7 linked regions of the Homo sapiens genome follow. The protein of the gene in region 4 interacts with the protein of the main gene of each other region in a biochemical or structural test. Each region holds a gene or a part of one and is shown on either strand. Other genes may lie near its edges. The genes, in order: SMCHD1, PPFIA1, NOSTRIN, LNX1, FAM110D, GAGE12J and SEMA4F.

Region 1 (3,500 bases), on a different chromosome or scaffold from region 4:
TTCCATAATTTATTATAGCATTAAAAAAACTATTGCCAGAGGCTCAATTAACAAGGTTTTTATGGTTTCCTAAACTAAACTTTACTCACATGGAGATCTCAGTGTTTTTTGTTTGTTTGTTTGTTTTTAATGTAATGCGTTAAGTAATGATTTTTAAGTATTTTTTTGTTGAGCATCTGCTGACATAGTAAGTTACTGCACCTTTTGACTGTGTGGTGGAGAATTCAGAGATATAGGAGATGTGCTTTGCTCTTGGTGATATTATATCCTAGCAATGGGGATAGTGTAAGCATAAATAATAGGTAAGAAGTGGATCAATGCAATGGAAAGAAAGGATTAATAGTGTTTTGGCAGGTTAGAAGGAGAGAAGAGGAGAGGATTTTTTTTTTTTTTTTTTACTTTGGTTGGTCGTGTGGGCTGGAAGAACAGAGCAGATCGTTAAATACTTTGGAAAAGAAGTAACATTTGTGTGGACCTTGAAAGGGGTAGAGGCTCAGGTTTACACAGATAATTACAAGGTAGAAGGCTCTCTGTTCTCTCCATAAATGAGAGATACCATCATATATTTAAAGCTATAGAATTGGATGAGATCATCTATACTTGGTGAGTATAGCTAAAGAGGTAAAAGGATTGAGCCTGGAGCTTTCCCAACATTTAGTGGTTAGAATGAAAAGGAGGAGCTGGCAGAGGAGACTGACAGGGATAAGCTGGTGAGACAGAAGGAAACTAGCAGAATGTGACATCCCTAGAGCCAAGTGAAGAGTTACAAGAAGAAAGGAGTGATCAGTTTAGTCAAATGCTTAGTGGTAATGGAGTAAAGTGCTTTCTAGAAGGTAATCTGAGCATAGAGATGTGCGTAGGTTAAGTGCAGAAAAACAGCAAGTAGTAAGAGTTGGGTTGTCCTGCTGCCTATTGTATGTGTGAAGAGAAATAGTTTAGAAATGGGGCAGGCAAGGTAGGTTGGGATAAACTCTTATAGTCCTTGTTGGGAATTTCTGAATTGGAGTAGTGGAAATTTCCCTTAGATTTTTTAAACCAAGTAAGGAGAAGAAATATGATAGGCAAGTTTTGAGCTGATGTATTTGAAAAATAATATTAACTTGTCAAAGTTTATAAATTGCTGTTCATCATCTGAGAGCAGAATTTTATGGGGAAAAAAGGTTTCAGATATGTTGGCATTCATTATGACTGAATTTGAAGGAATTCTGGACTTGTAAGACACATGCTTAATTCTAACACATTTGTATAAAGAAGCTGCCATATTTTTACAACTATTTGTTAAGTACAGAACTTCAAAAATACAATTTTATTTTAATATTAGAATGCTGTTTTCATTAGTTTTTCTAATGATAGTTACCAAGGTTTTTTTCTTTGTAATAAAGAAGTTCTGTAAAATTATTATTAAGCCTTTTTCTCTTCGTAAATCTTAATACTGAAGCTTTTTTTTTTTTTAAAAACTAAATATTAGGTCAAGACAATCAAGACACTTCCCCTCTTTTATGGAAGCATAGTAAGATTTTTTCTTTATGGCGATCATGATGGAGAAGTATATGCTACAGGAGGAGAGGTTCAAATTGCAATGGTAAGACAGCAAGTGATAAAACATACTGAAAGTTTCTTGATAACACTTTTGCATAATTGTTAAGATACAGTATATTTCGCTAGTGACTAGTTTTCCATTGGATAAAGTGGTTGTAGTTTTTGTGTGGATTTTTATGTGTCATAAGTTGATGTTTTTAATAATCTATACAATTTAACATCATATGCTCAGTTTTTGTAAACATATATACATTATAACTAGTTACCAAATTAATTTTATAAAGTCATATTTCCTCTAGGGCCCACTAACTAGTAAACATTGGAGCCAGAATTCTATCTCAGCAATGAGTAACTACAAAACTGGAGTGGGTTTTTTCCCTATACCATGCTTTCTTGTTAATGTTTGATATGTTAGGACTACAGAGGTTATATAAAAAATATAAACAAACATTGTGGTGTAACGTAAGAATAGCTACTGTTATTTATGTACTTAATTAGGATAAAATATATTTCTTTGGAAGAAACAAATGGGTGTTTGTTTTTATTACAGCTAGATTTAAATAGTTTTCTTTGAAATGTTGGTAAATGTATTTATTCAGGAACCTCAGGCACTATATGATGAAGTAAGAACTGTGCCAATTGCAAAGCTGGATAGGACAGTTGCTGAGAAAGCTGTTAAAAAATATGTAGAAGATGAAATGGCAAGGTAAGTCACACTTCAAGATGCATGACAAAAATAAGAAAAATTGGAAAGAATTGTGCTGTAAGTATTCTGAGTATGTCATTTACTCTGCTGTTAGGGCATTTGTAGTCTTAGATATTGTACCTATTGAGATGAACTTCTTGTTGAAAAAAATTAAGAGGTCTAGTTATACAAACAGAATTCTGCATTTGTTTTGTAGACAAAGAAGGAAATCTTATATATCTAAAGTGTCACTTTTATAGGCACTATGATTAACATGTTTTAAAAAAACTCAGTTTGGCCTACAACTAGGATATTACAATACCTGCTGAGAGGTAAAGATGAGTGTATTAGTTCGTTTTCACACTGCTATAAAGATACTACCTGAGACTGGGTAATTTATAAAGCAAGGAGGTTTAATTGACTCAGTCGTGCATGGCTGGGGAGGCCTCAGGAAACTTATAATCATGGCATAAGGCGAAGGGGAAGCAAGCCATGTCTTACATGGGCGGCAGAAGAGAGAGAGAGGGAAGGGGGAACTGTCAAACACTTTAAAAATCATCAGCTCTCGTGAGAACTCACTATCAAGAGAACAGCATGGGGGAAACCATTCCTGTGATCCAATCACCGCCCACCAGGTCCCTCCCTTGACACCTGGGGATTAGAATTCGAGATGAGATTCGGATGGGGACACAGAGCCAAACCTTATCAGTGAGTTATAAAGAAGAAGAAGGAAGTAGAAAGTGGCTTTTCTTCTTGTATAGCTAATGATGCAATCATTTTGATTCTTACTGAATTTTGATTCTTAGGGGTTATCCTGTCTTCTAAAGGTAATTTGTACTATAAACAAGTAGAAAAAAAAAATCAACAAAAATTTGACAGTTTCTGGCTTTTAATTCCAAAAGGTTTTTTTTTTTCTTCTTCTTTTTTTTCAGTAGCCACAGGAATGGTTAGGGAGGAAAAAAATTTTTAGATGATTAATCGTAAAGAATTCCAGATTTAACCTTTTAAAATATATCAGCAATAAATATTTAAGTTTCTAATAACTCGTATCTTTTTAATTAAGATCATAATTAACAAAGTTTGTGGAACATTAATATGCTGGTTTCATAACAGGCTCCCTGATAGATTGTCAGTAACTTGGCCTGAAGGAGATGAATTATTGCCTAATGAGGTTAGGCCTGCTGGAACCCCTATTGGTATGTTTGTTTATTTTTCTAATACCAAAAAGTGTGCTTTTCTTTTGTCTTACATTTCCAATATGTAAAAGGTCACGAGA
Region 2 (3,500 bases), on a different chromosome or scaffold from region 4:
GTGACTGCACGGAACAGCAGCAGCAGGGAGGGCAGAAAGCATAGGCAGAGCTCACACAAGCTGGAAACTGTGTGTTCTTAAAAATGTACTCAGTTATTTTCTCTGGTGTGGAGAGCAGTAAATTATGTGGTTTGGAAGCTACTACTACACTACTATTTCCTGAAAGAGCTTTCTAGCACGGCCTGTCACAGACACAAATTTACAAGTATGCCTCAGTCTCTCTCTGAGAACACAGACGAATACTGAGCTTTATTAGTTGGAAAAATATGCTAAGATTCAACCAGACAAGCGTGTTTTAAAAATTCTATTATTATGGTTAAACTTTTATAAACAAATGTTAGAGTTAATTTAAAAACATTTATATTTGGACATGCAACCATACTCAAGTGCCTTGTAACATATTAAATAGGCCGTTTTAGATCATTATTAATGTTCCAGACAGAAAGCTGCTCATGCTCCCAACAAGTGACAGGTTAGTGTGACCCATCACATACCGTCCATCTGCATCTTCTTTGGCTGCATAGAGGGGGAAGACATAGAAGAAGTCACCCGGAAGTTTGCAGGGAGAGTCTCTGCTGACCCAGCAGCTAAGCCACGAATGTCCTTTGGTCTAAACTTTTTTCTCCATGAAGGTGCTCTCCTAAAGCTTTTATCATCATCCTGGTAAATTAAGGAACAAAAAACAAGATTCATTTAAAAAATAAAGGTCAGAGATGTAAAGTTACATGTCCTTTAAAATGACTGCTGATCTCGAGAATGTATTCTTGTCCACATGTATTTAATCCCTTCTTGATGACCACACAATATATTGCCCAACCTGGAACTTCAGCGTGAAACGGGGCATGGTGATGGTCCGGCTGGGCCTCAGCTGGCGAAATGAGGTCGGTGCTGGGCCATGAGGATGTGCTCCTTCTCCACAGCATCATGTTCTACTTCTTACACCTTGCAGGAATCACTTTCTTGCAACGTAATACGTTTTTATTTATCTTAAAAATAGTTTATTTTTCATTTTTATTTATGTTTTTACAGACAGAGTCTAGATCTGTTGCCCGAGCTGGAATGCAGTGGTGTGATTATAGCTCACTGTAACCTCAAACTCCTGGGCTCAAGCCATCCTCCCACCGCAGCCTCCTAAGTAGCTGGAACTACAGGTGTGCCCCTACCACACGCAGCTCTACAAACAATTTTTAACTAGAAACAATTTTATCTTATGCCAGGATATAGCAACAAGTGCTTCATCTTTAGAGGTGGTCTTCTATTCTCTCTGTCAAACTCAACTTTTCTTAAGGTCCAATTAAGAGACTCCTAATCGTGTGGAACAAATGAGTCATGGTTTTAAGGGGAAATTAACATTTTGTGTTTTTAATATACTTCTGAAACATGCCACCCCACCCATGCACAGGAGTATGGGGGTACACTCTGGACTGGGGTAGGATAACTACTGGTCCCCAAAACCCAACTTACAGACTCTGTTCCTAAGCTGCAACCAATGTTTTATGATGTGAAAACCATTTTTGAGGGATGTCAAAAATTAAATAGCAAAAATAAAAACAAAACTACCTTCTTGAAGGTATTACTTTTGTGGGTTTTTTTTTTGCGGGGAGGGGGTTTCTTTTTGAGATGGAGTTTCTCTCTGTCGCCCAGGCTGGAGGGCAGTGGTGCGATCTCAGCTCACTGCAACCTCCACCTCCCAGGTTTAAGCGATTCTCCAGCCTCAGCCTCCCAAGTAGCTGCGATTATAGGCACCTACCACAACGCCCGGCTAATTTTTGTGTTTTTTAGTAGAGATGGGGTTTCACCATGTTGGCCGGGCTGGTCTTAAACTCCTGACCTCTGGTGATCCGCCCGCCTCAGCCTCCGAAAGTGCTGGGATTACAGGTGCGAGCCGCCGTGCCCGGCCCAGGTATTAGTTTTTAAAGGCTCATTTGTGAATAAATGTATAAGAGCAAAGCCTGACTTCTAACATCCAGAGAGACTGCCTAGCTACATGATGTCCCAAGTATAATAATAATAACAGCTTACATTTCACACACATTTAAACATTTACACACATTTCAGACATTTAAAGAACATTAGGCCAAAAACTTACTTCATCAAACCTTCTATCAGTCCCCATGACCAAAAGGTTGTTAAATTCTCTTTCCAAGACAGCACGAGCCTGAAATAACCAAAGAAAAACAAATAAAACTTTCATCAAATCTAATTTGAAGGGTGTTAGCATCGTAATTGTTTTTTAAACCAAGACTTAAACTCCCTCACTGCTGGCTGGGTCTGGTGGCTCACGCCTGTAATTCCAACACTTTCGGACGCCAAGGCGGACAGACCACCTGAGGTCAGGAGTTCAAGACCAGCCTGGGCAACATGGTAAAACCCCGTCTCTACTAAAAATACAAAAATTAGGGCCTGGGTGTGGTGGCTCATGCCTGTAATCCCAGTACTTTGGGAGGCCGAGACAGGCAGATCACTTGAGATCAGGAGTTTGAGACCAGCTTGGCCAACATGGTGAAATCCCATCTATACTAAAAATACAAAAATAAGCCGGGCACGGTGGCGTGTGCCGGTAATCTCAGCTACTTGGGAGGATGAGGCAGGAAAATCACTTGAACCTGGGAGACAGAGGGTGCAGTGAGCCAAGATTGCACCATTGCACTCCAGCCTGGGCAACAAGAGCGAAACTCCATCTCAAAACAAACAAAAAAACAACTCCCTCACTGCTATGACTACATTGAACCATAATAATATTTTAAATCAGGGCATCTAATGTGGAGTCAATGGATGGGCTTTTGCAGAAAGGGATCCATGATCCTTGGAGTCATATTAACAAGGGTGTGTTGTGTGGGTTGGTCAGGGGTATTGGCCAAAGATATTCAATTTTTTTTTTTTTTTTTCCTTTTTCTTTGGGATGGGGGTCTCACTCTGTCACTCAGGCTGGAGTGCAGTGGCGCAATCAGAGCTCATCACAACCTCCACTTCCCGGGCCAAGCAATCTCCCTGCCTTGGCCTCCCAAGTAGCTGGGACTACAGGCATGTGCCACCACACCTGGCTAATTTTTTTGTATTTTTTTGTAGAGACAGAGCTTCACCATGATGGCCAGGCTGGTCTCGAACTCCTGGACTCAAGCAATCTGCCTACCTGGGCCTCCCAAAGTGTTGGGATTGTGGGCATGAGCCACCTTGCCTGGCATATTCAATGTTCTGTAGAGGAATAAAAGTTCCCTGTTTTTCAAATGAGCCCATGAGTCAAAAAGAATGGCATAAGGCAATTACCCATAAAAACAAAATTAATAAAATCTTCATGTGGCACACCTAAAAACACTTCTCTTTCCATGTAAGAACTAAATATATGTCACTCTTCTGATCAGGCACATGGGCTGGAATGAAAGATCGTCCTTATCTGGTTTATTGCAGGACTCTCATGCTTCCAACAGAAAAGGGAAAGCCAATAGACCAAAAAAAAAAAAAAAAACCAAAAACTAGTTGTCTGAAGTTTTTTTTTTTTT
Region 3 (3,500 bases), on a different chromosome or scaffold from region 4:
AGGTATAAATACGGGATATTTGGGGCATGTGCATGTTATCATCATCCCTAGCTGTGTATGGAACTGTTTCTCAAACAATGCAACAGTGACTCCTTAATATATTGTGTGAACCATAATGTCCTGGTTTTACTGAAGTTCTTTTTTTTTTTTTTAAACCAATTTCTAATTTAAAAAACTAGATAGTCAAGATTATGGTAATTATACTTGAACATGCAGGTACAGTGACACGTGTGTGTGTGCTGAAAGATGAAGAGCAGTGTGGTGTGTGGGTGCATGAATGACTGAAGTCAGATGGCTGCTAACAGGAGTTTGTAGGCCATGAGTCCAAGCCCTGGCAAACCACCTGGATCACCATGTGTCTCGCAGAGAGGACAGGCTTCTTATGGGAGTTTGGAGGAGGCTATGGAGACAGAGCGACAAAGCTCCTCACGATGGTTTAGGTGTGATTATGTTTATGGCAAATAACAGGCCATTTGAATAAGGTGGATGCCAGTCATCTGATATCTGAGGCAACTTCTCATAGGATACTTTCCCAACCCTCTACTCTTCTTAACTTTTTCCCATTTTTACATAAAGCTACAGAGTCTAACAAATTAATCGGTCCCAATGGAAATATAAATTTCCTTAAACAGATACAGGTCAAAGTGGCTCTGAAACTAAAATTTAAATGTAGCAATGTGCCCTGCCAGTAGGACCCAGGCCAAAATGATTGTGGGCATGGGATTACCTGGAGTTGAAGAACCTGGATTGCTCTGCCCACCAGAAGATGCCTTGCTCACAATATTCTCTAATCTCTTCATTAAAAAAGGCCGAGATATTTTCACATAGCTATGAGTATGCTCCTGTTCAAATGACATAAAAAGTCATATTTTGTAACACGATTATCATAAACATTCATGAAAATTAACTCTTCTGTAGCTGTTTTCCTCAAGTTGTTTTTTCTGTTTGTTTTTTCTTTTTTTTTTTTAGACAGAGTCTTGCCCTGTCACCCAGGCTGGAGTGCAGTGGCATGATCTTGGCCCACTACAACCTCCACCTCCCGGGTTCAAGTGATTCTCCTGCCTCAGCCTCCCCCGTAGCTGGGATTACAGGTGCCCACCACCATGCCTGGCTAATTTTTGTATTCTTAGTAGAGACGGGGTTTCACCGTGTCAGCCAGGCTGCTCTCGAACTCCTGACCTCAGGTGATCCGCCTGCCTTGGCCTCCCAAAGTTCTGGGATTACAGGCATGAGCCACTGCGCCTGGACTGGAAGTTTTTAAACTGAGGGGTATAAATAATTCAAAGATTTCTAAGCCCTACTGTGTTTCAGTTTTGAGTTGAAGCCTTAATATTTTCACAATTACACAATTACTATACTTTATAGCCTGTGTTTCCAATTCTAACCTATGTGTCTAGGTCAAATAGTAATATTCATAGCATTACTTTTACAAATACAACTTTAGTTGGCTTAATGCAAGTGAAATGATCACAACCCTGTAAATGATTGAGATTGTTTTCGAGCTCTTGAGCCTTAGAAAACTGTCCCTTCACAAGATGATTACAGTTCCCCCTTCTGATCAGTAATAAAAATAGCTACAAGCATTTCAGAGCTGTACTGATGCATTATCTGCATTAGGCACCATCTTAAACAGATGAGACTAATACATACCACAAAATCTTATAATTTAGGTCTGAACGAATATTAAAATTTCAATTTAATAGAAATTTTACTGTAAAAGCACATCCAAAGGATGAAATTCAGGTATGATGAGAAAGAAGAAATCAAAAGTGTTTTTTAGCTTCTCATAGAAGTTTGGTGTACACAGAATGTATTCGGTTTTGTCTAGCTCTTGTTATTGTGCTCAAAAGAAAAATAAAAACATTTATCTTCTTAACTAACTGCATGAATATTAATATCACATAGAATTCCTAACACCTTTTTTGCCCTGATGCTACTTTAAGCCACTCCACCCAGCAGGCCCAATCAAGAAATTACAACCAGTCTCCTTAAATGTTACCTTTTCCCTCCACCTGAAGATGGAATTACTACAAGGATGGCTGGGTTGAGGTCTTTGCTCAAGTTCTGCTAACATTGATGACAGTTTGTAGGAGTTCGCTTCCAAAAGGTCTAGTTTCAAATTGTTCTGTGGATACATCATTTGGCCATGTGAGCAAATTTCTAGTAAATGAGGCACAACTGGATAGGAATATCAGAATAACTTTCAAAATAACAAAGGTTAGAAAAGTACGCATTTAACTCATACAGATATTCACAGAAAATGCCGAAGGAAAAAAAAATGGAGGAATAAACTCTTTAAGCAGTTTAGAGGGAGGTTTTAGTTGTTGAGTGTGTCTCATTCTGTACTCTGGGGGTGAACAGGAAACCTTGGTAATATATTAGTATTTTATGGCAATGAAGAGGTTTTACTCAATTTTCTGCTGAGGGACAAGAAAGGGGATAAGTGTTGATTGTAGAAGGTAGATTTTTGGTGGTCTGCGAAGAAGGTGAGCCATCAGTGCTAAATATTGTGAACAGAATTGAATTAACATCAATAGACGCAAATGAAATTGAATGTGAGGTTTGTTTGTTCTTTGATAAGGTGAGGTCTTATATTACCCACAAAGTTTACAGGAATACTTCTGGAAACTGGGAACAATATTTTAGGGCATTTGAGTATAAACATAATAAGTCAAGCTAAAGATACACTCCTAGTCTCTGTCTGTTCTTGATATGACCTTGAACTAGAAACTTTATAATTACCTTGTCAGGCTGGGTCCAGCCAGGGTGAATTAAATAACAGAATCTAAGCATTGGAAGGGTCTTGCTTATCCAGCCCCCTCCTCACCATTATCCCTCTCTCCCCCACACCTCCAGCATGGGAATTCCCAACCCTAATATCCCTGCCAGGGTGTCACAGCCATGGACAGAAGACATCCAATTGATGGAGAAAGTCTCTAATCGTTGGAGGAATCCACTGCATTGTGGGGCAGGCTTACCTAAGACAAAACTAAAAGCTCCCCCATGCTTTCTACCATTAGACCTTCACTTGATAGTCTCATAGAGCACATCTAGTTCTTCTTCTATGTGGCCCTCTTTCTGGTCTCTAAAGACAGTATTTAATCTAAGTGCCTCCAGTTTTCTCAACAATTTTTCTTATGACACTGCTTGTGAACATTCTTGATTCAAACATGGCACTTCAAGGACCAAGATATAATGAAATAAGGAAGAATGTAAATAAAAGTTTCCTCATCCTAGAAACCTTCCGTGGGTGACACAAAATCTACCAGTATCACTAGTTTCTGTCTACCCAGATGCAGAGCATGCGTAATGAAATCATGTGGATATTTGGCATTCCTCACTTAAAGGTTCATAGTTGCTCCTTCACCAGATCATAAACATTGGAAGTTCCAAGGTCAGATGCTCTCCCTCCTTGTGTCCTCCACTGTGTGCTTCAGGTGAGAGGACCCAGATGATCCTAATACATGTATGCTGGTAATGACAATGACAAAATTCTGTGC
Region 4 (3,500 bases):
GGGTGATTTATAAAGAAAAAGAGGTTTAATGGACTCACAGTTCCATATGACTGAGGAAGCCTCACAATCATGGCGGAAGGTGAAGGAGGAGCAAAAACATGTCTAACATGGTGGCAGGCGAGAGAACATGTGCAGGGGAACCGCCCTTTATAAAACCAACATATCTCATGAGACTTACTCACTATCGCAAGAATAGCATGGGAAAAACCCGCCCCCATGATTCAATTACCTCCCCTTGCGTCCCTCCCACAACATGTGGGGATTATGGAAGCTACAATACAAGATGAGATTTGGGTGGGGACGCAGCCAAACCATATCACGCATCTTGTTTTTGATTGAGGAAATTGCCATGTTTGATCATTTCTCTTAACTAAGTGATGATCTTAAACAATTTCTAAATAACTTTAGCTTACTGATCTTGTCTTTATTTGAATACATTTTGATCTTTTGTTCATCATGGATTGTTTGCATTCATTTTGCATTTTTTTAAATATTGCATTCACATTAGGATTACTGAATTTTTCTGCACCTTAAATTTTGCACCTGAAGGTGAGTGTCTCACTTGCCTCACCTTAATTATGACCTTGTCACTGTTAATTTTAGAAACCTAAGAATATCAAAACTGTGGTTTGGATGCAGCTCTGCTACCAACTACTTTTTTGGATCTTGATATTTTCCTTTTACCTGACCTGGTGGCCAGCCAGCTACAATGACAAAACAGTAGAATTACAAACTCTTCCCAGGTGTGCCACTAAACTTCACCCAAGGTCAGAATTGATTGTTGCTTCAGCTGATTGTTACACTTGACAGAGACACACAGGTGAACAGTTTGCTGAAGGGTTCACAAGGCAAGAGGAATGACTCGCTTCAAAGAAGCAAAGAATGTAACCTAGGGCCAGGTCTCACAAAAGATCACAAAACGACCGGATCCTGTAAGAGCTTTGTTTCATGAGTACATAAGCGAGCCCAGTCAAGTAATAAAGAGTTCTCTCCAGCAAGGACACCACATGGAATGTGACATTTTACAAACAGTGTGAGGCTCTGCCCTACTGTATTCATGTTTGCTTTGAATTTTTGCACATTTAAAAGTTATTCAAAATATTTTACTCCCTTCAGCCAACCTCTTGTTTTACAGCATGTTTCAAACACACAAGGGCTAACTCTATATCAGATTATTTCTGAGGTTACTTTTAGCTTCAAGAAAATGAGCTTAAGATTTTTTGTTTTTTTGTTTTTTTTTTAATTGTTGATGATGCTTTAAAATTTGGATTAAGCTCCATGTGGCAGAATGGTTGCTTAGTTTCAAACTGGTCACTGGGGTGACAGCTCAGTGCAAAAATCACCATCACAGTCAGAAACACCATCCTGGACCACGAACAGCAGAAATATACCCACAGAGGAACCAAACAGACCAGCGCCTGCCACTTCTTCAAATGGTGGCCTCATCTCTCTTTCTAAAATAATTCACCCAGCAGGCATGTCTGCCTAACTACTGCCCTGGCCCTAGCTGTAACTCCTAAATCAGGTTACTGGGGGGAAAATAATTGCCAAAGTTAGGGCAAAGTCTATCTTTCTGTATTAAACAAAGTAAATGTACAATTACATTTTAAATTTTAGATAAATTTAGTAAGACTTGACAGGATCGATAATGTGCCATCAAACTCTTATGGCAATTTTATAAAGGCCAATTGTAAATGAACATACACAGAGGATGGGCAGTGTTCTGTGGGCTATTCCTTAGCTTACAGACTCTCATGTAATAGGGAAGAATTAGGAGCATTAATGACCTGGATAAAAATAGTCACACATGGAATAAAATTATCTTCAAACTAAGAACCTGGGTTGGAAGTTTGGGGTGATGTGTCTGTGTGTGCATGATGGGGGGCAAATACACTGCAGAGGAAAGAGTGGGGAGGCAGGTGCTTACAGGCTGCCGCCAAGGTCGTGGTTAGCTCTGCTTCTGCTTAATTTCTAAATCAATGATCTCGAAGAGGGACTAAGCCACTCATTAATGAATCTGTGAATGACATTAGCCTGTATAGTATTGCAAACACCCAAAAATACAGAAAAAAAAAACCCTTTTAAATGGTCTTTAAAGAGGTCAGAAACATGTCAAGAAATTACAGGAGAATTGAACTAAAGGGAGACCATGTAATACATCTGGAGTCAATAAAGGAGGACATAGATGTTCAGAATGTGGGAAAAACAAGGGAAGTGGTTAAGCGAAAAGAGTCCCAAGTGGCTAGACAATTAGACGCAAGTTTTAGAAGTCAGGGAATGCCTTTCATAAGCAGGTTAGAGAAGAGTGTTCCTTCTCTTGACGAGATTTTACCACCTTTCCCCTGGGGTGCCATACTTGGGTTTGTTTGTAAAAACTCTGTAACAGAAAAGATGTCCTTCCATTTCCTAGTCCATAAACATGATGAAATAGAACTGACCCCCTGCAAACAACAACAACAACAACAACAACAACAACAACAACAACAACGACAAATGAAGGCAGAGTATTTTTGCATTGATTCGGAGCTCTGTTCATGCTAGGAGTCACCAAGGATCCCGGGAAGAGCTGATATCAGAGGGGTATGGAAAAGAAGCAAACTGACATTCTTTCATCCAAAGCTGAAAAACAATTTCAAAAAGTGTTTATGTGTGTATGGTTTTTTTTCTGTTGTTGTTGTTTTTTTTAAAACAGATAACCAAGTTTTACAGAGGGAAGGACAAGATGAGGAAAGATATTTGAATTCTCAACATTTTCCGGCTGTGTTTCAATTCTACAGGGGTCATGGCTTTGCCTAATCCATGCCTGGGATTGGCCTTAAACTCTGTGGGAGTTCCTGTAGGGAATTCCATTTCATCTCCAATACATTTAAGTCTAATTATGAAAACAGAGTTTATCCACAGGAAAAAAAATGTAAAAACACTGCAAGAGAATACATAATACATGGCAATGTGTATAATGCCCCAAGACAGGAGCCATGGACAAGCTTTGGAGGAGAGACAATAGAGAGTGCATGTGGCCCAGAACAATCAAGGAAAGTTAATGGGATAGACGGTCCTTGGGAAGGATCACGAATGATAAATGCGATCTGGACAAGTGGGAAGTAATCCAGGTGAGAAGAACCTGAGCAAATGTGTCAATCAAGGAAGAGTAGTGATCTCTTGATGTGACCCATATGACGACCTCTATGTGAGGTTTTAAAATGATTTATTTAGAAGTCATAGGATTTTGATCGGTTAAGGAACTTAGATTTTCACCAAGTAGAAAAATCCTCTTTTCAAGATCCCTACAGCACCTACCAGCTTCTATCTGAAACACTTCCACTGATGGAGAACTGGTCAGTTTTTCAAATAGCTAGTGCTTCCCACGTTACTTTGACCTTTGGCCTTGTTCTGCCTTTCAGTGTAACGTATATCACATTTGCTTACTCAAAACATGACACACACATCCCCAAATTAAAGACAGCATTGGGTGGTTCCTCCCTTGTTTTTATCTTTGTCTT
Region 5 (4,196 bases), on a different chromosome or scaffold from region 4:
TGCGGGCTGGCGTCGGCTCCCCAGCTCTGCGGGGAGAAGCGCTCTGCGCCCAGCACCTCCACCAGCGCGCGCTCCAGGCCGCAGTAGTTGAAGAAGCGCTCCTTCTCCGACAGGGGCAGCGAGCACGTGGGACACAGCGCCCGCTTTCCCGCCGCTTCCGGGGCATCCTGGGGCGCAGCCCAACCCCCTGAAGCCGCAGGTCGCTCTGTGGAGGCCGGGCTGCTCGGGGCAGCGTCCCGCGGGGCACCCAGAAAGAGGCGCCGCACCAGACCCTGGCCCTTGGCGTTCTCTTTGTTCACCGAAGCCTTGCAGTCCCGCTTCTGGCGGTAGAAGATGAGGGAATCAGGCCTCGGCAGCCGCCTGCCGCTTCCCCGGCGGACCGGCCTGGGCGTCCTGGGCGATGCAGGGGGCCCCAGCTCGTTGCAGGGGTGCGGCGTGAGCGGCCCAGGACTCCCACGCAGGGCTGGCTCCTGTCGCCTAGCTATCACCTGGTGCGTCTTGACATACTTGGCTTTGTCGGCTTCCAGCCTCTCCACGGCGCTGGGGGTCCGTCCTCTGGACGGGGTGGAGGGAGGGGCCAGGAGCATCTTAGCAGAGCTGGTCAGGACAGTGCCCCATAAGTAGCCAGCCACGGGGCCTAGAGCAATTGGCTTGGGCTCTCACTGACCTGCAGGGAGAGAGGAAGGTCAGGGGAAGGGTAGGAAATGCCCCTGGTCCTCTCCTGCCGGCATTCCTCAGTATAGGATCAGTCAGCCACCCTCTCCCATCCAGGTTAGCCGGTGCCACATCCAGGGAGCAGAGGCTCAGGCCATCCCCTTTCCCTGTCCTTCAGAGACATTGAGTGGGGTCTCTCTGGCCACTCAGAAACATATTCCCCTTTGAAGGTGCCCCAATCTGGCCACAGGGTCGTGCAAGCAGGCCTTAGCAAGCAGGACACTTGGAAAAGGAAACAGGGCTGGTCCCGGCCCAATTCCTGAAAGTGGCTTCAACCGGAAAAAATACCTCTTCCCAACCCAGCAGCTTTGAGCCCAAGACAAGAAGGCTCCCAGCCACAGGCTGGCTCCAGCAGGGCCCACCCTTCCCGCCCCCAAACACCGAGGTCGGGGATATAACCACAGGGTAGGAGCCTCCAGTAATTGCAGCCAACTGCCCTGCCCAGGCCCAGCAGGGCCATCGGGGCAGGAGAGGGAGGTGGTCCCCAGGCCCTATCAGCTACTGCCAGCTACTCTGCCCCTGCCAAGGGGATCGCAGAATGCCAAACTGTAAACATCACCTTGTTTAACCTTTGCATTTCCATTTCATGAAGAGGAAACTGGCTTGGAGAGGAGGGGGGCTTGCTCAGGTCCTATTGAGAGTTAGGAGCCAGGACTGGAACCCAGGTTTCTTTTTTTTTTTTCTTTAGACGGAGTCTTGCTTTGTCACCCAGGTTTCTTGCCTTGCAGTTCAGATTGGATCTCTCACTTGCCTATCAGAACTTCCCACTGAGGCCAGGCGCGATGGCTCATGCCTGTAATCCCAGCACTTTGGGAGGCCGAGGTGGGTGAATTACCTTAGGTGAGGAGTTCCAGACCAGCCTGGCCAACATGGCAAAACCCCATCTCTACTGAAAATACAAAAATTAGCCAGGCGGGGTGGCGCACACCTGTAATCCCAGCTACTTGGGAAGCTGAGGCAGGAGAATCGCTTGAAGCTGGGAGGCGGAGGTTGCAGTGAGCCGAGATCGCGCACCACTGCACTCCAGCCTGGGCAACAGAGCGAGACTCCGTCTCAAAAAAAAAAAAAGAAAAAAAAAAAGAACTCACTGATATTTTGCGTGTATTCCCGCTGCTATAAAACCAAGCAATTTCCGTTAGAAATGGGCCCCTTGCCTCACTAAAAAGTTCCTTCCACTAATTCTTCCTAATAACCTGCGCTCCCACTCCCAGAAATTTGCCCCCAGGGTCCTTGTCCCTTTTTTATCCTAAGACCTCATGACCCTTTTCCACCTCCCTTCTGCTGGGGCAAGGAGCGAGGAGGGGTTGTAAATCAAGAGCTGACAGTTCTCTTGGCAGTAACAGAATGGGCCACCCACATGGCCCTGCACACCCGACCCCACCCCTATCTTCCCCTACTCCCCCTGAGTCCTGGAGGCTGAGGGACCTTGGATCTGGGGACAACAAAGGAACAGAATTAGCCAGGGAAGTGGGGAAGGAGTCTGTGAGAGGCCTTGGGGCAGAGACCCTGCCAGGTCCAGCCCACCCCTGCACCCAGCATCTAGTGTGTAGTCAGTCTGCTCATAGGTAGTTGAGGCCTGGGAACCAAGGAGAGTCTGGCAGTGTCCCCCTCCCTGTCTCCCAGGGAGTCTCCTTGGCAGTGGGTCAGATTCCAAGGTCCCAGGAAGGCACTGCTTGTCTGACCCCATGGGTGCCCTCTGTCCTCTCCTCTTCTCCCCAGCCCTGAGCAGGGAGACTATAAAAAGTTCCTAATCACAAGGACCAAAATAGTCTGTCATCCACAGCCTCTTCCCTGCCTTCTGGGCTAGCCTGGAGGCCGGACCTCAGACATCCCGCCCTAGAAGCCTGGCAGGCAGCCTCGGGCCCTCCATTCCTTTGCCTGCCTTCTCCCAGTCCTGAAACTTGTGGTCTCAACTCTGCCCAAGGCTTCTGCTCTGGGCATGGGCCATCTTTTAGGCTCACTAGTTTGGCACCAGTCTCCCTGCCCTCAGGCCCCTGGGTTCCTTCTTACCCCAGCCCTGGGCTCAGGGTACACTCACCTCTGCATGGGAGGCCTAATTGCAGGGGTCCTTGGGCAGGTCCAGACTGAGGGCAGGAGTGGACAGCAAGGACTAGAAGTAACTTTGGTGGCAGCCAAACCTCACTCTCCACAGGAAAAGCAGAGAAAGCCTCCACCCCCCGCCCCCCAAATTAACCCTCGCCTTCCTGAGGCAGATCCTGGCCTCCATTAACTCTTTCCTGATCACAGTCCTGCGCTGTGGAGACCTGTGAACCAAGTCCAGCTCCTTTTATTTTACAGATGGTCAAACAGTCCCAGCCCGGTTAGGTGATTGGCTGTGGAAGCACTGTGAGCTTGGGCAGAGCCAGGACTCCAAACAAGGCCTCCTGATCCCCAGGCTTCCTCCAAAGGCCTGGGGTGGGGGCTCCGTATGTGGGATCAGCCCCCTCCCTGGGCTGTGGCAGATGCTCTGACAGTCTGAATGGGAAGGCAGAACAGGGTTCTAGTCAACTTGCTTTTTTCCCTCTGTAGCAGGCTGAGACCTGTCTTGGTCTGGGTGCTGGGTGGTGTCAAGCCTGCTTTCCCTGGGGGCGAGACCAGGAATCTGCAGCCTAAGGGTGGGGGCATTGGTGCTATAGATGTGCAGGTGAGCCTGTGGCGGCAAGTCTTGTCATGAAGGTGACCCTGGAGCCCACTGGAGCTGCCTCTGCCAAGGTCCTTTCATGGCAGATGGGATTGCCTGGGAAGACAGTGATGAGGGGCTGATTCCAGGGCCAAGCCCAGGTCCTTTGGCCCGCTTCCTTCTCTGCCCACACTTGGAGCCTCTTAGAGCTTCTTCCATCAGAGTTTCTTCTCTGACACCTTATGTCTCAAGGTGAAACCCTACCTCATAGGAGACACCTCCCCTCTCCCCAGCAGGCAAACTAAACTCTCCAGCCCAGACTAAGACCAGTGCTCAGGCCAAAGGTTCCTTTCCCCCCTTGGCTGGCCACCTTCCCCAAGTCCCTCCTCCTCCTTTCTAGCCCTCTTTCATGTTTGCAAAGCACATTCCCGTCTGTGCTCTCTGATCTCCTTTGACCGCCCCCAAACAAGGACCCTAGACAGGCGTCCAGCAGGAATGACCCCCCACTTAATGAGTAAGGAAACAGGAGCTGAGGGGGGAGAGAGATGCCCAAAGCCCAGCTCCAAATCCACATTTGGAACTGCATCCTCTGCCTGTCAAGTCAGTAGTGGGTCTGAAAACCCAAGGCCCATCTCCCGGTAAAAGGTTTTTATTACCTAAAGGGGGGATTTTGTTGGTGATAGTTCCATATTTTGTTGCTACAGCACTTTTCAAAATGCCATTAGCTGCTTTGTCATAATCCCCATGACAATCTTTGGGGGAGGTTTTATTATTTTTCACACTTACGGCTGAAGAGACTGAGGCTCAGAGAGGAGAAATGACTTATCCAAGCTCACCAAACTCTGTCACCCAGGCTGGAGTG
Region 6 (4,183 bases), on a different chromosome or scaffold from region 4:
TGTCTTATCCCTGATGAGAAACCGAAAAATTTCAACATTTCACCATCCTATTCACTCTCCTTTTTTTGTAGATGGACTTTATCAGAGTGAGTCATTCCATTCTGTTCCAAATTTGCTGAGAGTATTCATTTGAATATATGTTGATTTTCATCAAACAGTGCATCTATTTCGATTACCACAGCGTTTTTTCCCATTCATGTGTTAATATAGTGAATTCGATTGATAAATTTGTACGTTTTTAGGTTCGATTATTAAAACTTGAGACAGCGTCTCACTCTGTCACCGAGGCTGGAGTGCAGTGGTGTTATCAGAGCTCGCTGCAGCCTTGACCTCCTGGGCTCAGGCGCTCCTCCCACCTCAGCCTCCTGAGTAGCTGTGAGTATAGGTACATGCCACCATGCCCAGCTAATTTTTCGATGGTTTTTTGTTTGTTTTTTGTAGTGATGAGATTTTCTGATGTTGCTTAGGCTGGTCTCGAAGTCCTGAGCTCAGGTGATCTGGCCAGCTCAGCCTCCCAAAATACTAGGATTACAGGCGTGAGCCTTGGCCTGGTCTGGTTTTTCTTATATAGGGGTCTTATCTATATAAAGACTAAAGTTAATCTGTGCCTTTGTGCGGGTGGGCTAAGAGCATGATGACTTTTATCATTCTATTGATTTAAAGAAAACTATCCTTGACTTACCAGTGTGTAAGGCCATGAAAGCATAATTCTGTTGAAAGCATATATTGTTAATGGGTGTTGGGAACCGTGCACTTTCCGCTGCTGTGGGAGCATGTCCTTGGAGGTACCTTTCATCTGTTTTCTCAACTCCAAACATCTTAGGACCATGGGTTGTGACTGGTAGGACTATGTATCTTGCTGCTTTCAAGACGGAGTATATTTTCACGTGGTTTCACTCTGGCTGTCCTGTTTCCCTAATACTGTCACTTCACCCTCTGTGATTCTGATGCTACAAATGATAGATATCGTTTTAGCATTTTCTTACGGGTCCTAGCGATTCTATTCATTTTTCTTTCAGTCTCTTTCTCTGACTTGTTCACAATGAACAATTTCCTTTTGGGATAGGTTGCTATTTCTGTTTTCGCAGGTGGTTTACCTGTCTTCCCAGCCAGTCACAGTGGTCCTTGTCCCCATGGTGGGTCCGGGGCAAGAGAGGGCCCTGGGTTGGGGGTGGGGTTCAGTTGAAGATGGGGTGAGTTTTGAGGGGAGCACTACTTGAGTCCCAGAGGCATAGGAAACAGCAGAGGGAGGTGGGATTCCCTTATCCTCAATGAGGATGGGCATGGAGGGTTTGGGGCGTGGCGCTGGGAACGGCAGCCCTCCCCAGCCCACAGCCGCGCATGCTCCCTGGGCTCCCGCCTCAGTGCGCATGTTCACTGGGCGTCTTCTGCCCGGCCCCTTCGCCCACGTGAAGAACGCCAGGGAGCTGTGAGGCAGTGCTGTGTGGTTCCTGCCGTCCGGACTCTTTTTCCTCTACTGAGATTCATCTGGTAGGTCTGCAGGCCAGTCATCCCGGGGGCTGAAGTGTGAGTGAGGGTGGAGAGGGCCTTGGGTGGGTCAGGCGGGTCCCGCTTCCTGGTCTGTGGCCTCCGAGGGAGAAGGGCCACGAGGTCGTCCTCCTTCCCTTCACAGGCTGCGAGGCCACCGGCGGCTTCGTGGTCGTGAAGGGGCCTGGACGGGGAGGAAGGTGGGCCGTGGAGGGGAGGCGGTCAGGGGCTCAGGTGAAGATGGGGTGAGTGCTGTTGGGGGGATGGAAGTCCCGAGGTGCCGGGAACCCCCGACGACACAGGGCAGATTCCCTGAATGGGGCCTCCGGCGGGGGCGAGGCGGGCGGTGAAGAAGGGGCCTGGCACCTGGGAAGGCTGCGGCCTGGTGAGCGCCCCCCCCAGCGGTGTGGAGTGCGGAGCGCCTGAGTGAGAAGCACTGCAAGGTCTCACCTCCGCCATGGAAGGTCCGAAAACAGTGGGAAGGAGTGGGCGAGGCAGTGCGGTCCAACCAAACTTGTTGTGAGGGGGGGTGAATGGCTCTAGGAAGTGGGAGTGTGCCCAAAGCAGCAATCACGAGAATTGTGATTCACTAGGGTTTTCGTGGGGAGTGCACTTGTGAAACTAAACCTCATCAGAAATGACCTCTGTCTGCGGGGCGCAGTGGCGCTCGCCTACGTAGTCCCAGTTACTCGGGACACTGAGGTGGGAGGATCCCTTGAGCGGGAGGTCGAGGCTGCAGTGAGCTGTGATCACGCCGCTGCACTCCAGCCTGAGCAACACAGCGAGACCGCGTGTCCAAAAGAAATTTAGAAAAAAATGTCCTCTGCCTTTTGCCACATGCCTTAAGATGATTGCTCTGCCAGCCTGGCCAGCAGAAGTGGCTTTGTAGGCACTCAGACAGCGTACACACGTATGCTTAACTCTGGGACTTATCTTGAGAGTATTTTCAAAAGTAAAACGGCAAGTTTACATTTATCCATGGAAGTGATCGAATATAGCAGCCCTGTGGAGCGCACGTTCCCAATCACGGTTGTCTGTTTTCAGTGTGAAATATGAGTTGGCGAGGAAGATCGACCTATTATTGGCCTAGACCAAGACCCTATGTACAGCCTCCTGAAATGATTGGGCCTATGCGGGTGAGTGCTTGAACGTTAATTCGATGTTTTCTATTAGTAGAAATTAATTTTTGTGATAGCGTTGTTGCATTAGTGTGGAAATGCTGATAAAGGTCTTTCCTGCTCATAAAAAATGATGATGGCATCTCATGAAGGAAACATTGATTCTGGAGGATTTTTTTTTTCCTCTCGTGTTCTTCAGCTTTTGCCCATGACTTCTTTCTCCGGCTTTGTTTGTTAATGACAGATTGTACACATGTATTCCAACACAGAGTACAATAGCCTCCAAAGTCCTCGTGCGTCACTTTTCTCACAGTAACCTCCCTGTGGGTGGAGTAACCTTATTGGGCATAGAGCATAGAGTTGGAGAAATGTCTTTAGGCTTAGTTAGGACCAGAAATAGCTATGTATTCTGTGTATATATGTAAAATTTTGTATCAATAACGAAACTTATTTTTTATTTGCACACCCACACGTATTCCCCAGCCCGAGCAGTTCAGTGATGAAGTGGAACCAGCAACACCTGAAGAAGGGGAACCAGCAACTCAACGTCAGGATCCTGCAGCTGCTCAGGAGGGAGAGGATGAGGGAGCATCTGCAGGTCAAGGTGAGGGAAAGGGAAGAAGAACGTCTGCTGGTGTGTGCGTGTGTGTGTGTTCGTGTGTGTGTGTGCATGTGTGTGTGTGTGTGTGTGTGTGTGTGTTAGGCATTGTCACATAGGAGGAAGAGGAGGAAAGAAAACAATGGAAAGAATGCCTGAAATTGACTGGAAAAGCGAGGAGGCTATGTAGTTTGCAGCTTAGCTTAGGCAAATCCCTCACTATGATAAAAGTTCTCGACTTTATGAATGAGAGAATGGAGGTGCCAGGATTGTGTGTTATCCAAGAACCCTTGACTGGTGAATACAACATTTGTATTGTGTTCCAAGGTTTGTGTCTTCCTATCATGTGTGTTGCTGTAAAGAAGGAAGTGATTTTGCTGAAAATGCTTAAAACTCAAAAGGCTTTACTGTAAGGTAGCTTAGTACTGACCCAAGAATAGACCCAGTTCAGAGGAGCAGGAGCAGCTCCAAAAACCGAGTCGCTGAATGTTGGCCCCCGTTTCCTTTGATTGATATTTTTATATGGTACGTTTGATAAAAGCTGGATAAATGAGGATACTGCCATACAGGTAGCTGGTTTAGTGATTTTTCTCAGCGGCTTTTAGGAGGTGATTAAATCCTTTTATGGTTAGAAAAGCAAAAACGGAATTATCCTGAGATTAACGTGAGATGGAAATAATTTCTCCGAGATAAAATGTTTTGAAAGGAAGCGTTTATGTAATGGAGGTCATGGATTATTCCAGGGATGCACTGTTAAAAGTTCCTAGAATCTGACTGACAACAATGCCCATTAATTGCTGTCCACCCACTCCCTTATTCTCAGTGCGGGACAGTATATTTTCTGTGATTCACAAACAATGTTATATTTGGTGCTTTGTTCTTCACGGGGTTCATTTATGGAATATTACCTTTAGGACCTTCGGACCTAAATATAACTTTATTTGAACAAAGTGAAGTTTCTCTTTACCCCAATAGGTAA
Region 7 (4,055 bases), on a different chromosome or scaffold from region 4:
ATTAGGGATGCTCAAACTGTATAGTTCTAATAATGGTCAAAAAAAAGTTTGAAAGCTGTTTCCCTAGAGTATTGTAATTTTAATGATCCCTCTGCCCATTGTCACCTGAAACCTGGTCACTGTGGTCTCCTCCCCATCATCATGAACCTCCTTCATATCCTCCCCAGTCACCCTGACCCGCCATACTCTTAGCTAAGAAAACAAAGTGGATGATCTCCCCCCATGTCTCCCAACTCACCCCCTCCTACTACCCCTGCTGTTACATCTTTAGTTATTATGAAATCCCCCACACACACTCATAAAATCATAGATTTAATCACATGCTACAGGGTCAGGGGTCCTTCCCTCTCTTGTCTCTCACCCTGCGGGGTCTCTCCCCTGAGAAGGGCAGGGATAAAGCGAAGATGGTGTCCCGGGCGCCAACATAAAGTGTGTGGGAGGCAGGATCCACAAGGAGAACAGAGTAATTGTATGTGTGAGGGACTGCGAACCGGGTGAGACAGGAGTCAGCCTCTGGCAGGAAGAGAGGAGAGTGATGTTAGCCATCGCTTCCTAAGGGTCAAGTCCACAAGAGCAAAACCAAAGGGGCCAATTTTTGTTTTCTTCCAAGTACCATTTATTAAGCAGCCATGGGGGAGAAACACAGCCTTGACAAGTGAACCAGAGATAGATGAGGCCAGAATATTTAGCACACAATCCAGTGGGTAAGTATGCTTTTTCTATAAAAATAGAGCACTAGCTGGACACGGTTGCTCACGCCTGTAATCCCAGCACTTTGGGAGGCTGAGGTGGGTGGATCACTTGAGGTCAGGAGTTTGAGACCAGCCTGGCCAACATGGTGAAATCCCGTCTCTACTAAAAATACAAAAAATTAGCCAGGCAAGGTGGCGCGCACCTGTAATCCCAGCTATTTGGGAGGCTGAGGCAGGAGAATTGCTTGAACCTGGGAGGCAGAGGTTGCAGTGAGCCAAGATCACACCACTGCACACCAGCCTGGGTGACAGAGCAAGACTCCGCTTCAAAAAAAAAAAAAATCTAAACCTCATATTAGCATTCAAAATTCGTATCTATTTAAAGACTGGAATAAGTTGGCATGAATTTACCTTCCTAGCTCAACCTCTGGTTCTGGGGACCCTACCCTTGCACCAATACAGCTCTGCTCTACCTGCTTCCTCTGCTCAGTACCCTCAAGACTGCAGACTGGACACCAACCCATTCATTCCTAGATGTACTGATGAGTCCCGCCCACTCCTTCCTCCCACACCCATACTTACCTCTGTGCCCACTCTCTCATGCTTAGTATAAGCCCTGGATCACCTAACTTCCCCTCACATCCTCAACTCTGCTTCACCTTGCTTGCCATCTAGACATCTCTGGATGCCTGGACATCAACCCAGCCTGGCAATCTCAACTTACTTTGTGGCTATTGCTTGGGTGCAAACTGAAACCCCAGGCTCTGGCCACAACTTCGCCTTCTGGAATCACAGCATCCCTATATGGCACTAGTCTGAATTTAAACTCTAAACTACTATTAACCAGTCCAGAGTTGTTGCCAACAGGTTGTACTCTTGGCTTCACTGGTTCTGTCTGCCCAAGGTGCTAATAACACTCAATGCCCACTGAGAAGACAACAAGGTCCACGGCCATGCTCATACCCACCTCAGCAGAGTCTAAAATGTGAATCGCCCCAATGATCACTTTTAACCTTGTGACGTCTCCTAGCTTCTTCCACATCTTTTCAAAGGATCATATCCCCCTCCTCTATTTTTCCTTCTGAAGACTTGAAAAATCATTTAAGCAGAACTTTACATCAACACATTGAATGGTTTACCAATATTCAATGTAGGGAATGGGCAGAGGCAGCGAGGAACACTGAGGAAGTTAAGAGAGTTAACGTGGATCCAATAATGGGAGAATGGGAGCTGCTGTCAGAGATGTCAGGGGAGCGGGAAGGGCTGTCAGAAGGGCCAAGAGGCTCGGATGATGTATAGAACTGATAGGGAAATGAATTGGAGAAGATGGAAATGCTGACCTGGAGATCGGAATGGAAAGCTGGAGTAGAATGAAAGACTGATGGGTCTGAAAGCAGAGTGGGCGTCAAGCTGGAATGATGGACCCAGGTGTATGTGCGGGGAAACAGGGGACTAAGGGAGACGGAACTTCGAAATGAACGACCTCGGGCAGCCCCCACCCGAGCTCTGGGCCTCAGTGTCCGAGTCTGCACGGTGAGGACTGGACGCTCCTGCGGCTCCGGGAATAGGGCCCGCTGGTGCAGCCTGGGCGTGTCGTGGGAGCCGAGGCGCGAGGCCCGGGCTGGGGATGAGGGGCTGAGGGGCGCGGGAGGGATGCAGAGAGGATGCGGTGAAGTGCGAAGATCTCGCCCCGGTCCCGGCGGGGCGTGGGCGGCGTGAAACGCCATACACCAGGCTGAGAGGCCCGGGTCCGGCCGAGCGGTCTGAGGAGCAGGTGGGTGTGGGTGTGGGTGTGGGCGCGAAGGGCTGAGGGCGTGGGCGTCCGCGCCTTACCAGAGATTGGAAGCGAGGTTCTGGGCACCGAGCGGGGGACGCGGCCGGATACCGGGCCGCTCAGCACCGCCAGCAGCAGTAGCGGGAAGGGCGAGGCTGTAGGCTGCCCGGGACCCGGGCGGGGCCGCGCAGCAGAGGCCGGCATCTTTGGCTCCGCCTGGCCGCGGGTGCGGCGCAAGCTACGGCCTCTGCTCAGGGCCCCGGGGCTACTGGCCTCGGCCCCACTCGGGTCCTCTCGGCTCGGTCCGGCTCAGCCTGAGGCTGAGGGATGAAACACCGCCCGGCTCCGCCCCCTCAGAAAGGGGCCAATGGTCGGGCCTCCTTCTTCCTCCAGCCAATCGGGATTGAGTGAAGGCGGGGCTGAGGGGAGGAGAGGCCTAACCCAGGCAGAGGCGGAGCTAGACCCAGGTGAAGGTGGGAGTTCTGCCTCGGAAGTGCGCTGGGGCTGCCACTCAGGGACCTCGAGTGGCGAGTTTGCTCCGGCCACTCCAAAAACTCAAACGCCCATAGCTGTACTAATAAGGAAAACTTACTAATAAGAGGACGTGGATACACGCACCAAGTTTCTCAAAATTAATACTTTGCAAGCATTTAAGGACGGCTGCCTATGTGCTGGGCAGGCACAGTGTAACGCGCGCGCGCACACACACACGCACACACACACACACACACACACACACGATTATACAGAAAATACTAAAAATCACGGCCCTTGCCCTAGGGAGTTCACACTGTAATGGGGCTTCCAAATGTAAGCAAATAACTGCAAATAGATAATTGCAATACGAAGCAATGCACGTTTGCTATAATAACGTGCAATAAGTGTGCAGAAGGGCCAGGTTTTGCCAGAGGAAATCAGGAAGGCCTCACAGAAGAGGTGACATTTGAACTGATTCTTCTAGGGTTGGTAGGCCTTTGAGGGCGAGGAACAAAGACTGCCTATGGGCATATCCACTTGGATATCCTATAAACAAGGCAAGCATAGGTCCTGAGGATAACTCACTATCTCCTCCATCCCAACCCTAGCTCCTTCTTTTTTTTTTTTTTTTTTTTTTTTTGAGACGGAGTTTCGCTCTGTCGCCCAGGCTGGAGCGCAGTGGCGCGATCTCGACTCACTGCAAGCTCCGCCTCCCGGGTTCACGCCATTCTCCTGCCTCAGCCTCCCAAGTAGCTGGGACTACAGGCGCGCGCCACCATGCCCGGCTAATTTTTGTATTTTTAGTAGAGACGGGGTTTCACCGTGTCAGCCAGGATGGTCTCGATCTCCTGACCTCGTGATCCGCCCGTCTCGGCCTCCCAAAGTGCTGGGATTACAGGCGTGAGCCACCGCGCCCGGCCCCTAGCTCCTTCTTCAAGCACTTAGTCTGCACTTAGTAGGTAGTCTTTGCTTTCTCCTCTTTCACCCCCATTGTATTAGTTATTTAGGCTGCAAAACAAATGTAACAAATTAACCTCAGAATTTGGTGGCTTAAAACAAACAAACAAAAGACATGGTCCCTGAATTCGAATTGCTTAGCCTGGAGGGAAAAT

Evidence for each region.
Region 1: the proteins of LNX1 (region 4) and SMCHD1 interact in a test that uses a peptide from one of them, tested with the Homo sapiens proteins (one large-scale study listed by IntAct).
Region 2: the proteins of LNX1 (region 4) and PPFIA1 interact in a test that uses a peptide from one of them, tested with the Homo sapiens proteins (one large-scale study listed by IntAct).
Region 3: the proteins of LNX1 (region 4) and NOSTRIN interact in a test that uses a peptide from one of them, tested with the Homo sapiens proteins (one large-scale study listed by IntAct).
Region 5: the proteins of LNX1 (region 4) and FAM110D interact in a test that uses a peptide from one of them, tested with the Homo sapiens proteins (one large-scale study listed by IntAct).
Region 6: the proteins of LNX1 (region 4) and GAGE12J interact in a test that uses a peptide from one of them, tested with the Homo sapiens proteins (one large-scale study listed by IntAct).
Region 7: the proteins of LNX1 (region 4) and SEMA4F interact in a test that uses a peptide from one of them, tested with the Homo sapiens proteins (one large-scale study listed by IntAct).

What each region holds. Positions count from the first base shown.
Region 1 is NC_000018.10:2,704,226-2,707,725, forward strand, and holds part of SMCHD1 (structural maintenance of chromosomes flexible hinge domain-containing protein 1), read left to right. Parts: intron 1-1,468; coding exon 1,469-1,582; intron 1,583-2,138; coding exon 2,139-2,245; intron 2,246-3,337; coding exon 3,338-3,420; intron 3,421-3,500. UniProt on the Homo sapiens protein: Non-canonical member of the structural maintenance of chromosomes (SMC) protein family that plays a key role in epigenetic silencing by regulating chromatin architecture.
Region 2 is NC_000011.10:70,375,190-70,378,689, reverse strand, and holds part of PPFIA1 (liprin-alpha-1), read right to left. Parts: intron 2,159-3,500; coding exon 2,090-2,158; intron 661-2,089; coding exon 495-660; coding exon of another isoform or gene 487-494; exon of another isoform or gene 219-486; intron 1-218. UniProt on the Homo sapiens protein: May regulate the disassembly of focal adhesions. May localize receptor-like tyrosine phosphatases type 2A at specific sites on the plasma membrane, possibly regulating their interaction with the extracellular environment and their association with substrates.
Region 3 is NC_000002.12:168,858,137-168,861,636, reverse strand, and holds part of NOSTRIN (nostrin), read right to left. Parts: intron 2,126-3,500; coding exon 2,000-2,125; intron 843-1,999; coding exon 728-842; intron 117-727; exon of another isoform or gene 1-116. UniProt on the Homo sapiens protein: Multivalent adapter protein which may decrease NOS3 activity by inducing its translocation away from the plasma membrane.
Region 4 is NC_000004.12:53,581,487-53,584,986, forward strand, and holds part of LNX1 (E3 ubiquitin-protein ligase LNX), read right to left. Parts: intron 1-3,500.
Region 5 is NC_000001.11:26,157,683-26,161,878, reverse strand, and holds the start of FAM110D (protein FAM110D), read right to left. Parts: upstream 2,801-4,196; 5' UTR 2,753-2,800; intron 668-2,752; 5' UTR 588-667; coding exon 1-587.
Region 6 is NC_000023.11:49,320,654-49,324,836, forward strand, and holds the start of GAGE12J (G antigen 12J), read left to right. Parts: upstream 1-1,383; 5' UTR 1,384-1,491; intron 1,492-2,532; 5' UTR 2,533-2,540; coding exon 2,541-2,624; intron 2,625-3,089; coding exon 3,090-3,210; intron 3,211-4,183.
Region 7 is NC_000002.12:74,652,992-74,657,046, reverse strand, and holds the start of SEMA4F (semaphorin-4F isoform 1 precursor), read right to left. Parts: upstream 2,801-4,055; 5' UTR 2,671-2,800; coding exon 2,526-2,670; intron 514-2,525; coding exon 362-513; intron 1-361. UniProt on the Homo sapiens protein: Probable cell surface receptor that regulates oligodendroglial precursor cell migration. Might also regulate differentiation of oligodendroglial precursor cells. Has growth cone collapse activity against retinal ganglion-cell axons.